Regions from separate parts of the Homo sapiens genome. Here all the other regions are linked to region 1. Evidence: fine-mapped expression QTL. A gene starts in region 1. Each other region holds a variant in brackets. All regions are shown on one strand. Distances are from middle to middle.

What was found. PIP is the estimated chance that this variant, and not a neighbour inherited with it, causes the effect.
Region 2: its variant is the best candidate, but not a certain one, in a credible set for the expression of SPATA7 in putamen (GTEx, PIP 0.51).
Region 3: its variant is the best candidate, but not a certain one, in a credible set for the expression of SPATA7 in whole blood (TOPMed, PIP 0.85).
Region 4: its variant is the best candidate, but not a certain one, in a credible set for the expression of SPATA7 in liver (GTEx, PIP 0.59).

The regions. Positions count from the first base shown.
Region 1 is chr14:88,384,152-88,386,841 of GRCh38, reverse strand. It overlaps SPATA7 (spermatogenesis associated 7), which reads right to left and starts at 1,185. Exons shown (of 12, transcript NM_018418.5): 1 at 1,005-1,185. The coding sequence starts at 1,023. RefSeq lists enhancers at 993-1,312, 1,323-1,392, 1,423-1,502.
Region 2 is chr14:88,299,770-88,302,459 of GRCh38, reverse strand. The region is part of intron 1 of KCNK10 (potassium two pore domain channel subfamily K member 10); the gene reads left to right. Among named protein-coding and RNA genes, the nearest start is that of KCNK10, 22 kb to the left of the region's middle. The variant C/T (reference allele first, on the strand shown) is at 1,617.
Region 3 is chr14:88,581,122-88,583,811 of GRCh38, reverse strand. The region is part of intron 9 of ZC3H14 (zinc finger CCCH-type containing 14); the gene reads right to left. Among named protein-coding and RNA genes, the nearest start is that of ZC3H14, 19 kb to the right of the region's middle. The variant A/G (reference allele first, on the strand shown) is at 1,687.
Region 4 is chr14:88,362,536-88,365,225 of GRCh38, reverse strand. No RefSeq gene overlaps it. Among named protein-coding and RNA genes, the nearest start is that of SPATA7, 22 kb to the left of the region's middle. RefSeq lists a silencer at 167-461 and an enhancer at 1-605. The variant A/T (reference allele first, on the strand shown) is at 1,595.

The DNA of each region.
Region 1 (2,690 bases):
GACTATATAATAAAGGCAGACTCATTCAAAGAAAGACATCAAGGAATCATCTAGCAGCTTGGTTTAAAGGCAGTCTTTTAAATAGATAAAAACACTGAATTGGGAGGGGCGGGGAGTCTATAAAGATTGCCTCATTTGACTCGAGGAAAGAATGATACTGGCTCAGAAAGTGTGAAAATGCAAATTATTTGGTTTGGGCCGATTTGTAGATATTTAAGATTGTATTTCCCCACCCCCAACCCCACCACATGATGTCCACCTGACTCAAGAAATCAGTAGAGAACAGGTGTATATGGTGAGTACGGATTGCTGCTAAAACTGCAGTCCGCTGACCAGCAACACCGCATTACTTGGAATTTATTATAAATGCAAAATCTCAGCCACCCCCAAGGGACCTACTGAATCATAATCTGCATTTTAACATGACCCTGAGGGGATTCCTATTCACAGAAAGTTACAGAAACCCTGGGTTACTCAGTAGCTTTGGGGGAGGTAGTTCGTTACTGGGAGATTTCGTATTTACTGACCACTTCAAATGCGCCAGGATCTTCTCTATATTATCTGCATTTAATCCTCAAGAACTCCATGGCCTGGGTATTTGACCCTCACGTTCAAGAGATAAGAAAACTGAGGGTCGTCTCCATGGAGAGCAGAGGGGTTTGATTTGGGGCCCGGGGAGGTCTGACTCCAAAGACCAAACCTGGTTCCTCTGCCTGGGAGCTACTGAGGTTTTAAAGGCTGCACGACCCTGAGTTCAGGAGACAGGGGCCCCTGGTGTCAGGGCGACAAATTCAGGGCAAAGAAGCGGACCTGCGAGGCTGGCAAGCAGGCTCTCCCTCTTCCTTTGCGCAGGCCTGGGCAGCTCCAGGCAACACTGGCGACTCAGCCAGGGGTAGGAAGCGCCCCAAGGGGCGGCCTTGCACTCAGCTGCCCGGACCCGAGGCTGGGAGCGCCGCCTGGAGCGAGGGGCGAGGCGGCGGTAGCCCCTGACAGCTGCCCTTTACCTCTCCGGCTGCCATCCATGCTTAGTCCTCTTGCAGCCGCCGCAGGGACACGCTGTATCCCCTTCGGTCCTTCCCGCGGCCGGGCCCAGCCCCGGCAGTGGAGGACTGGAAAAGAGGAGCCGACGGGGGCTGCAGCAGCAGGGAAACCGTTGCCAGGCCGTTGCTAAGGGCTGGGTCCAGTGAGTCGCTATTGTGACGTCACGGCGCAGGGGACGTGCGTTCCGCAGCCCCGCCTGCGGGATACCCGGTACTAGGAGGACAGTTGCGGACGGAGAGACCTGGCGGGGAAGGGGCATCGAGCCCCAGTCTGTTGCTCTGGGATCCTGCCAGTCTTCCGCAGAGCGACCTCCTGTCAGGATCCGAGTCACCAGCACCTGGCAGGCTCTGTCCCTGCGGGAAGAGCAGGGAGAGGAGGTGGACTCATCTGGCATCCACGTCCCCTGGGTCCCGGAGAAAAGTGAAACACAAATGTTAGCTGAGGTCAGGGTAACATTTAACCAGTTCCAAATAATTAAATTTCAAAGCAGTCCGTGAACTTTTGGATTAGTGAAAATCCTAGGGGTGAAAAACATCTACATATTTACATCTTAATTCTTAACCTTAATAATAAGTTTGAATTTCCTTTCTGCTCGCCAAGCTTCCCCGCTCCTGTCCCTGCCTCCCTTTTATCGTAAGTTTCAATCCATTTTTATTTATAATGGAAGAGAGCTGCAACATGAATAAGGGGTTGATTTATTGATGGCTTTCTATAATTTGTTTAATTTTGAAGCAGTTACCTTTGAATCCTTGGAAATAACGTCAGATCAGGGTAGGAAGCATTCTGTCATGTAAGACTTCTCAGCCCAAATGTCCATTGACATTTTGGGCTGGTTGTATAATTCTCTGTTGTGGGGGTGCTGTCCCTATGAACTGTTTTGTAGCATCCCTGTCCTCCGTTTACTAGAAGCAAGTAGCTTCTCAGAAGCAGACCCCACCCACTCCACCTCCAATCCTGACAGTCATAAATGTCTCCAGACATTGTGAAATATTCCCTGGGGGGCAAAATCGCAACTCTGTTGAGAACCACTGCTGTAATGAAAAGAGTCCTGGTTTTGGAACCAGATATGTAGAACTTAATTCTAAATTTTTTGCTACTTACCAGCTTGATCTTGAATTAGTTTCTAAAACTTTCTGAGCCCCAGTTTTCTCTTTTCTAATGTAGATTGTGAAAGTTGTCAGAATCAAAAATAGAGTCACATGTGTTAGAAAACCTGACAAGTGGAACTGGAGAAGGCCATGAAGGAGAGTTCTCATCCATGAATGCCTGATAATAAAACTATCACAAAATACTGCGAAAACCACAACCTTGCACAAAGACCTCCACCTTACCCAAAAAGATACTTCTATGAGGACATCTGTCCAGCAATTGTCTGTCCAACCTTGAACTGACATCACCCTTGTTATTGATGCTTGGAGCCAAGGCTAATTACCTCAAAACAATTATGTAATCCTCTCCTTTTTTTATTTTTTAAAAAAACTTTTTTTTCCTTTAATTCCTTGAATATGCAAACAGTTTGCCATGGCACGCATATTCCTATTGCAATGCCCATTCCTGGGTAAATGTCATTTTCTTCTGTAGAGTTGAGGACTAAGCTCTAATTTTTTTATCTTGCCCAAATTCCTATCTAAGGTGTCTAGGGAGTCATG
Region 2 (2,690 bases), 84 kb after region 1:
GGGATTACAGGCATAAGCCACCGCGCCTGGCCGCTCTGGGTTTTCTTTTAACTTTTCTGGCCACTCCTGTTTCCTGTTGACTCCTTTCTCATTGCTCTACCTCTAATTGGTGGAATGCCCAAATAGTTAGACCTGAGGTCCTTCTTGTCAGGATCTGTAGGTTCTCCTGAGTGATCTCAGCAGTCCCTCTGTATCATCTATATGCCGAGTATATCCTAAACTTGCTTCTCTCAAGAGTTTGTCATCTCATTGAATGAGTTTCCCATCTCATTGATGGGCACCGCCATCTATCTGTATAGTTGCTTAAAGTACGGGCATGTTGCATGAGTCCTCTGTTTCCCACCCCTGCCATTTTGTTCTCCACTCACCAGCAAGTCCTGCCTGATACGATATCTAGAACACATCCAGAATCTGTTTGTTTCTCTCCATTTCTGCTCCTGCCACCCTCATTCCACGCATCTTCCTGTGTGGAGAGCTGACAGCCTTTTTATCGGCCTCCTTTCTTCTACCCTTGCTCCCAATAATTGATCCTCCGTGGAACAGCCACAATGATCTTTTAAAAATATGAATCTGATTTCTCTTGACCCGCAGCTTAAAATTCTCTATCGGTTCCTCTTTCCACTCGGCATAAAATCTGCTTTCTGGTGCTGGCCTGCAGCACCCTGAGTGCTGGCTGTGCTGACCTCCTTTCCAAGGCTGGTCTTGAGCCGTCTTCCTCTAACCTATGCTGCACTTCTTTCTGCTTTCCTTGAATAAAACAAGCTCCTCCTGATCTGAGGGCCTTTACGGGACCTCTTTTTTTTTTTTCTCCTAGGATTATCTTCTGCCCAATTTTCATAGGACTGGCTTCTCCTCGCCTCTGAAATCTCAGTCCAAATGTCATGTCCTCCAAGAATCTTTCTCTAACCGCCCACTCCTGCTGGGCACCCTCTGTTGTAGCATACTGTTAGGAGTCTCTGCATCATGCCTCTAACTCTTTGAAAAAAAGTTCTATTTGTTAGTTTAATAAACTAAAACTAAAAAATTTATAAACCAAATTTCAAAATTTTAAAAATTAATAAACTAAAAACAGTACAATGATATCTCTGTGAAGTCAAGGGAGGAGAGAGTTTTAAGAAGGGGAACTTAATTAGCAGCACTAAAGGCTCTACAACGACTCAAGATAATGATAATGATGATGATGATGATGGTGATAATGACAGTGATAACTAACATTTATTGTTACTATGAACCTGGAAGAGTGCCAGGCATTTTGCGTACATTATCATATTTAATTCTGACAGATTAAAAGTCCTGACAATGCCTCTACTGTCAAGGAATGTTATTCTCATTCTCAGAACACTGAGACTTAGGGAGGTCAGTCAAAGTGCCTGGCACATGGTAGCTTTCGATTAATGTTTGCTATGTGAGTAAATAAATTTCCACAAGGTCCTGGAGCTGGTGAATGGTAGAGTTGAGAGTCTAACTTAGATCTGACTGAATCCAAAGTCCGTATTTGTAACCACTGGTCTATATTTGCTCAGATGAAGACAGAGAACCCCTTAACAGATTGAGAAAAGGAAGCCTAATATAGGATAAATGATTTCTTATTTATTTAAAACATATGATAAATAAAA[C/T]TAATTTTCAGTCCAAAACCTTCTGAATTTTGGAATTCTGGACTCCATTCATTCAATTCATTTGAAGGCATAGGTGAGTTCTTTAAAAGAAGCATTAGGAATGAATCCAGATTGAACAATTTTCTTATTAAAATACCCTAAAGATGCATTCTTATGATGAGCCAGGTTCATTGTCCAGGAAAGCTATTAAAACTCAGTCTTTGTGATGAGTGCAGTAAGAACCCCACTTGAATTACGTAGTGAGCAGGTGCTTCCTAAACCAAGTTTCATGTTTGACAAGCTAGGAGAGAACCCAGTGTTAAATGTTTTCTGGCATGTTGGCCTTTGGTTTCTCATATTATGGGACATATGTTTAGTGCTTGTGGTATATGCTTAGCCTACTCTTGTAGGATGACTGAGACCTCACACAACATCAAGGACATAGTCTTTGCCTTTGCTGAGTTCAGAGTGTAATTGGAGTGATGAAACATACATGTGAATAAATGCAAAGTCACAAGTAAAGACAGTTAATGTGATTGATGAAGGACGTGTGGCACAAGATGGATAAGAATGAGAAGTAGAAGAAGTAGGTGGTTTTGAACTTTCGTTACTCAGGGAAGGGAATGTATGTGGATTGGTGGAGAAGAGAGGGGAGGAAGATGGTTTTAAGCACTGGTAAGATGGTGCATATTTGCAAGTTTTGCTCAAGGGATAGAAAGGGCTGAGACCCAGTGGGGAGGAATCAGAGGGGAATCGGCAAAGAGAATTAGGGAAATGAGAACTGTCAGTAGAGGAAGTGAGATTAGGCTGGCCGGGAGCTATTTGGGGTTTCTGAGTACTGATGTTACATGAAGGAATATTTGTGAGGGATAAATATTGCAGTGGGTGCATTTGAGAGCAAAACCAGATTCAGGCCCAGTTAGGGAAGGGTTTCTTAAACGTCGGCCTTTCCTATGCCATCTTCACTTTTTAATTTTTTGGTGGCCATATTTAGATATCAGCTGTGTCACTATATACTTAATATTTTCTGTAAGTTGATTTCACTTTTAAAAACTTAAATTTAGCTTTGCCCTATGCAATAAACTTATCATTGTT
Region 3 (2,690 bases), 200 kb before region 1:
AATAAATGTAAAATTCCCCATCCAATAATTAGTCCACTTTCTTCCAAAATGCATGTGGAAGATGCATAAACTTGATTATGCACTAAGCAAGTGTTAACAATTTTCAAAAACTATGCATTGTAAAAATTACATTATCTAACCACAATGCAATTAAGTCAGGTGTCTATAATAAAAAGGATTAAAAGACAAAAACACATACCACTTCCAAATACTGTATAGAAAACACACTTTCAATGATGAAAATTATAATGGAAATTAAAGACACTCTGATAATGAAAACATGATGAATTAAAACCTGTCATATGTATTCTTCTCAAATGCTTACATTTGAGAAGAAGACAGCCTGAGGTAAATAATTTTTAAAATATGGAAGGATAAATTAAAAGAGAAGTCGGGCCAGGTGCAGTGGCTCACACCTGTAAACCTAGCACTTTGGGAGGCTGAGGCAAGAGGGCTGCTTGAGCTCAGGAGTTCCAGACCAGCCTGGGCAACATAGTGAGACTCCATCTTTACAAAAAAACTTAAACATTAGCTGGGCGTGGTGGCGTGTGCCTATGGTCCCTGAGGTGGGAGGATCATTTGAGCCCAGGCATTTGAGGTTGCAGTGAGCTACAATTGTGCCACTGTACTCTAGCCTAGGTGACAGTGAGACCTCGCCTCTTAAAAAAAAAAAATAAAAAAAAAGCACAAGTCAATGAAATAGAAAACAAAAACACCAAAAAAAAAAAAAAATCAATAAAGCCAGAATAATGTTGTTAAGTCTTTGAAAAGATCGGCAAAATAAACTTCTAGTGACAGACTGATGGCAAGACAAAAAGCAAAAAGTACACATATTATGAGGTGGGTGCGCTAGTAAAAATAAAGACACCAGAGAAATGAGAGAATGCTATCTGCTCAAACAAAAGAAGAAAAAAAATTAACAACTTATGCCAATACGAGTGCATGTTTATATTTTAAAAACCTGCCCCAGATTATACCGTACAACAGTGAGTAACCACATTAACAGATAACAGTTGCTTGCAGTATCACTTCACACTTGTGAATATATCTAGTAATACCAAACTCCTCATCAGCAAAGGTACCTGACACCATTTCAATTATCCCCTTTTAAAACACAGTATAGAAAACCACACAAACATATAGCTTAATGAATTTTTGTAAGGCAAAACACCCTTCTGACTACCATCCAAGTCAAAAGAGAGAACGTCATCTGCCACCCCAGAAGCCTCTCTGTGTGCTCCATCTTTATCGGTCCTCTTCAAAAGCAACCACTATGTGCTTTTTATATTAACGCCTAGAGGTTCTTTATAATTTCACACACACTGGGTATCCCTAGCCACTACAATTTAATCCTGCTCCTTTTATTTTCCTTTGATTTGCCTTTTAATCTCAATTTCTCAGGCTATTCAACCCACAGTGTCCCAAACACTATTTTTCCGGCTGCACACTCATGGTGAAGCTCAACCAACATACTCCTCTGGCCTCTGCAACTTCTTGCAAACTGACTGCTGGACTGGGAGCTTGATGACTTAGGTTTACATTTTTGGCAAGACAAAAGTTCTGTTCTTTTGTATCAAGAGGCACAAAACAACTGGTTTTCACTCTTAAAAGCATAACTCTAATCCTACCATCTTGTTCTCTTATCAGCTGAAATCATTTTAAAAGAAAATGTTTCTCTCATCTACT[A/G]TATCAGAGGTTGGCAAATCTTTTAGGCTATTTTAGGCTATGCAAGCTATATGGTCTGTTGCAACTATTCAACTAAGGCTGTAGTATGAAAGTAGCCACGGACAATACATACATGAATAGGCACGGTTTGGTTCCAACAGATGCCAACTCCTGTCCTATGGGGTTACCCAGTGGTATCGTTCTCACAGAAAAGACAGCATAAATGTTCAATTATTTTATTTACCCAGTTTTCAAGACAATGAATGATTATCTACTACCTTCCAGAAGGTGACTAGTTAGAGCTTATTTTTTTAAAATGTCATTATGAAATTGTGGATTTAAATGGGCTTTAATTCACCGCGATATTTACACCTACTGAATCTCAAATAATTCCATTTTTGGCCAATGGAAACCTCTAAGTTGGCGCCTGCATCCTTTGGACGTGGTCTACCATTCATTGACAGCTTCTTTGCTATCTGGGATGTTGAGCCATTCCAGGATCATGTTAACATTTCCTGCCCCAGACCTGGAAAAAGACATTTCTCAAGAAGCCTAGTTCTTTGTTTTTTTATTTTTATTTTTTCTTGAGACGGAATCTCACTCTGTTGCCCAGGCTGGAGTACGGTGGCACAATCTTGGCTCACTGCAACCTCCGCCTCCCGGATCCAAGCGATTCTCCTGGCTCAGCCTCCCGAGTAGCTAGGACTACAGGCGCACACCACAACACCCAGCTAATTTTTTTGTATTTTTAGTAGAGATGGGGTTTCACCACACTGGCCAGGCTGCTTTTGAACTCCTGACCTCAGGTGATCTGCCCACCTCGGCTTCCCAAAGTGCTGGGATTACAGGCGTGAGCAACTGCACCCAGCCCAAGAAGCCTAGTTTTTTAAATAGGAAGTATTCCAAGACCACAATCTGGGAACTACAGATGATGCTAAGGGTTGATGAATGTTTCTATGCCTTCTAGTAGACAGAACTAGAAAAAAATGTATTTATATATAAAATACACTGTGAGTTCCGAAACA
Region 4 (2,690 bases), 22 kb after region 1:
GGCTCTGTAGCAATAAGCCAGCAAGTTCCAAACAGACTCTAGTATAGCATCACGTGACAGATAGTAGGCCCTGAAGAAAGCGAAAGTATTTTACCCCAAAATATATTTATTTGATATATTTTGAGATGGTCCTGCAAAGCTGTCTCTTGTGAGGGAAATTTGCATTCTGTAGAGAATCTCCTTCCTTTACTAGGTCTTTCTGAATAGTCTGACCGACCTTTAAAGTTCCATAGGAAACATTCACATCTATTGTCTCTGAATTCTCCTACTTGGAGGCTTCATCTACATGACAAAAACCTTGGTTTCCACAACCCACCCCTCCCCAGTTACCTTCACTCAAGCTGATTTCAACTCTTCAGGCAGAGCTTACCCCTTTCAACCAATTGCCAATCAGGAAAATTTTAAATCCACCTATGACTTAGAAGCCTAACCCCCACCTTCAAGATGTCCCACCTTTCCTGGCTACACCAATATATACCTTACATGTATTGATTTATGTCTTTACCTGTAACTTCTGTCTCCCTAAAATGCATAAAATCAAGCTATAACCCAGCCACCTTGGGCACATGTCCTTAGGACCTCCTGAGGCTGTGTCATAGGTCATGACCCTTAACCTTGGCAAAATAAATCTCTAAATTGATTGAGACTTGTCTTAGATACTTTTTCCTTTCTAAAATATAAATACTGAGTTCTTTTTTGAGCATAGGCAAAAAGTACTCTATCATCTAAAAATCCTTAATGAATAAAAAATGTCATTATTACCAAACTATACCTTGCTTTTTCTTAATCCTTAATGAATGAAAAATGTCATTATTACCAATCTATACCTTGACTTTTCTTAATTTTATTGTTAAAAGCAGGAGAGAACAGAGGTGACCACAATTCTCTATAAAGCAGTATGTGCCTGATGGTATTAGACCGAAGAGAGTTGTGATAGGATATACTGACCCCAAGTGCCTATTTTGAGTTCTCTTAAATAATAGAACTCTGATATCTGAACACAAATATAATCTTGTCCACAGAAAATGATCATTCTCAGAACTATAACACCGCACAGTTTTCACTGCACTTTTTAATATGTGTAATTCCACACCTTATTTTCATTTTTCCTACAGTTAAAAAGTGCACAAAATTGTGACTCTGTAGGTAGCTTCACTGACTTCTTTGTACTAACAGAAGATTCACTCATATTGTGACAATTTGGCTAAGGCTGCTGGTCAGGTCCACTAATAATGGCCACGGTCCTCCATCTTTCCATTTCTCCCCAGCTGCGCTCTTTAAATCTTTTCGTCCAATTAACAGAACAAGTCTCTGTGAACAGAACTTAATCATTCAGTGGTTACTAGGTAACCTGTCCCCATAGCTTAAGAAGAGCATTCCATCTATTCTTCCACTGTCAATCAATCTCCACAACAGTACATTTGGGAGGATGCTCACCCTAAAGCTTTGATAATCTCCACCGAATGCATTCTCTGTTTACAAGTGGCTTCACCATGAAAAACAAAGCAAAACAAAAAGCTTAACCAATCTGTTCATCTATCCTGATAATATCTTTTCCACTTAAAAAAATAGAATCTGAAGTTTTAACAGTTAA[A/T]GAATTTTTGAAAAGCTCTTATAAGTGCATCTACTATTCACAAACTGCCACGCACAAATCAATTTTTAAAAGCCATGATTTATGTAAGCTACCAATGAAAACCATTCTTTATTGATACTTTGCCTAGTCTTTCTAAGGGATTTCAGTCTCCACTCCAGTCACACTTTAGTTCTTTGTCTTGTTAGATGTCTGCCTGCAATATACAGAAACACTCTAAATTATTAGATTGAATGACATGAAATTGCTGTTTTATAAATAAAAAATTGTCAATTAGACAATATCACTTGGTTCTACCTAGTAGTTTGAAGTATTTGAAGAACACTATTAGAAACTTAGATTTAATTTAGACTAAATTAATTATTTCTTTAGAATATTTGAGTAAGTAATCTTAGAAAATGGAGGTGGGAGGGTGGTTCTTGACATCCTTAGACATGTTCATTCTCTGACTTAATTGAATTAAATGTGAGATTTCTCTTATCCTCTTTGAAGTCTTCCATTTCCTTGTCTGCAAACAACTTCTTAGTGTTCATTATGTTTTTAAACAAAATCTAAATTATCCAACAGTGTGAAAATGTGTTATGAAAACAGCCTATCATTCTGTAACGTTAAGTATTCACTGAAGTTTATACCTATAGGCAACCTGAGATTATGATAACATTGAGGTCACAATGAACACAGGAGCTATTAATATTTCCCACAGTGAAAGCACAGTCAAGATAGAAAGTTTGGTGGTGATCTGGGTACAGAAAGACTTCCTCTGTGTTATTTATAAGATGCAGAGTGAATGTTTCTGTACAATATCTGAACAAGGTAGAAGAAGTGATGTTCCGACACTCTTTAATTCAGTTTGTACACAAGGCTGGAGGTAAGCAAATATTTTCCCTTGTTTGTCAGAAAATTTAGGGGCTAGGAGGATGCTGGTGATTGCTAAGCAAAAGTTCTAATTTTGCAGAAAAAGCTATGGAGCCCAGAAAAGATAAGTAATTAGCCCACACAATTGGTCTTTATGACTCTTGATTTCGTGCTCATTCCACTAAATCAGGAAATAGGCAGGAAGACAATTATTTCAGTGACTTGTCCTTAGGCGTGTTCACTC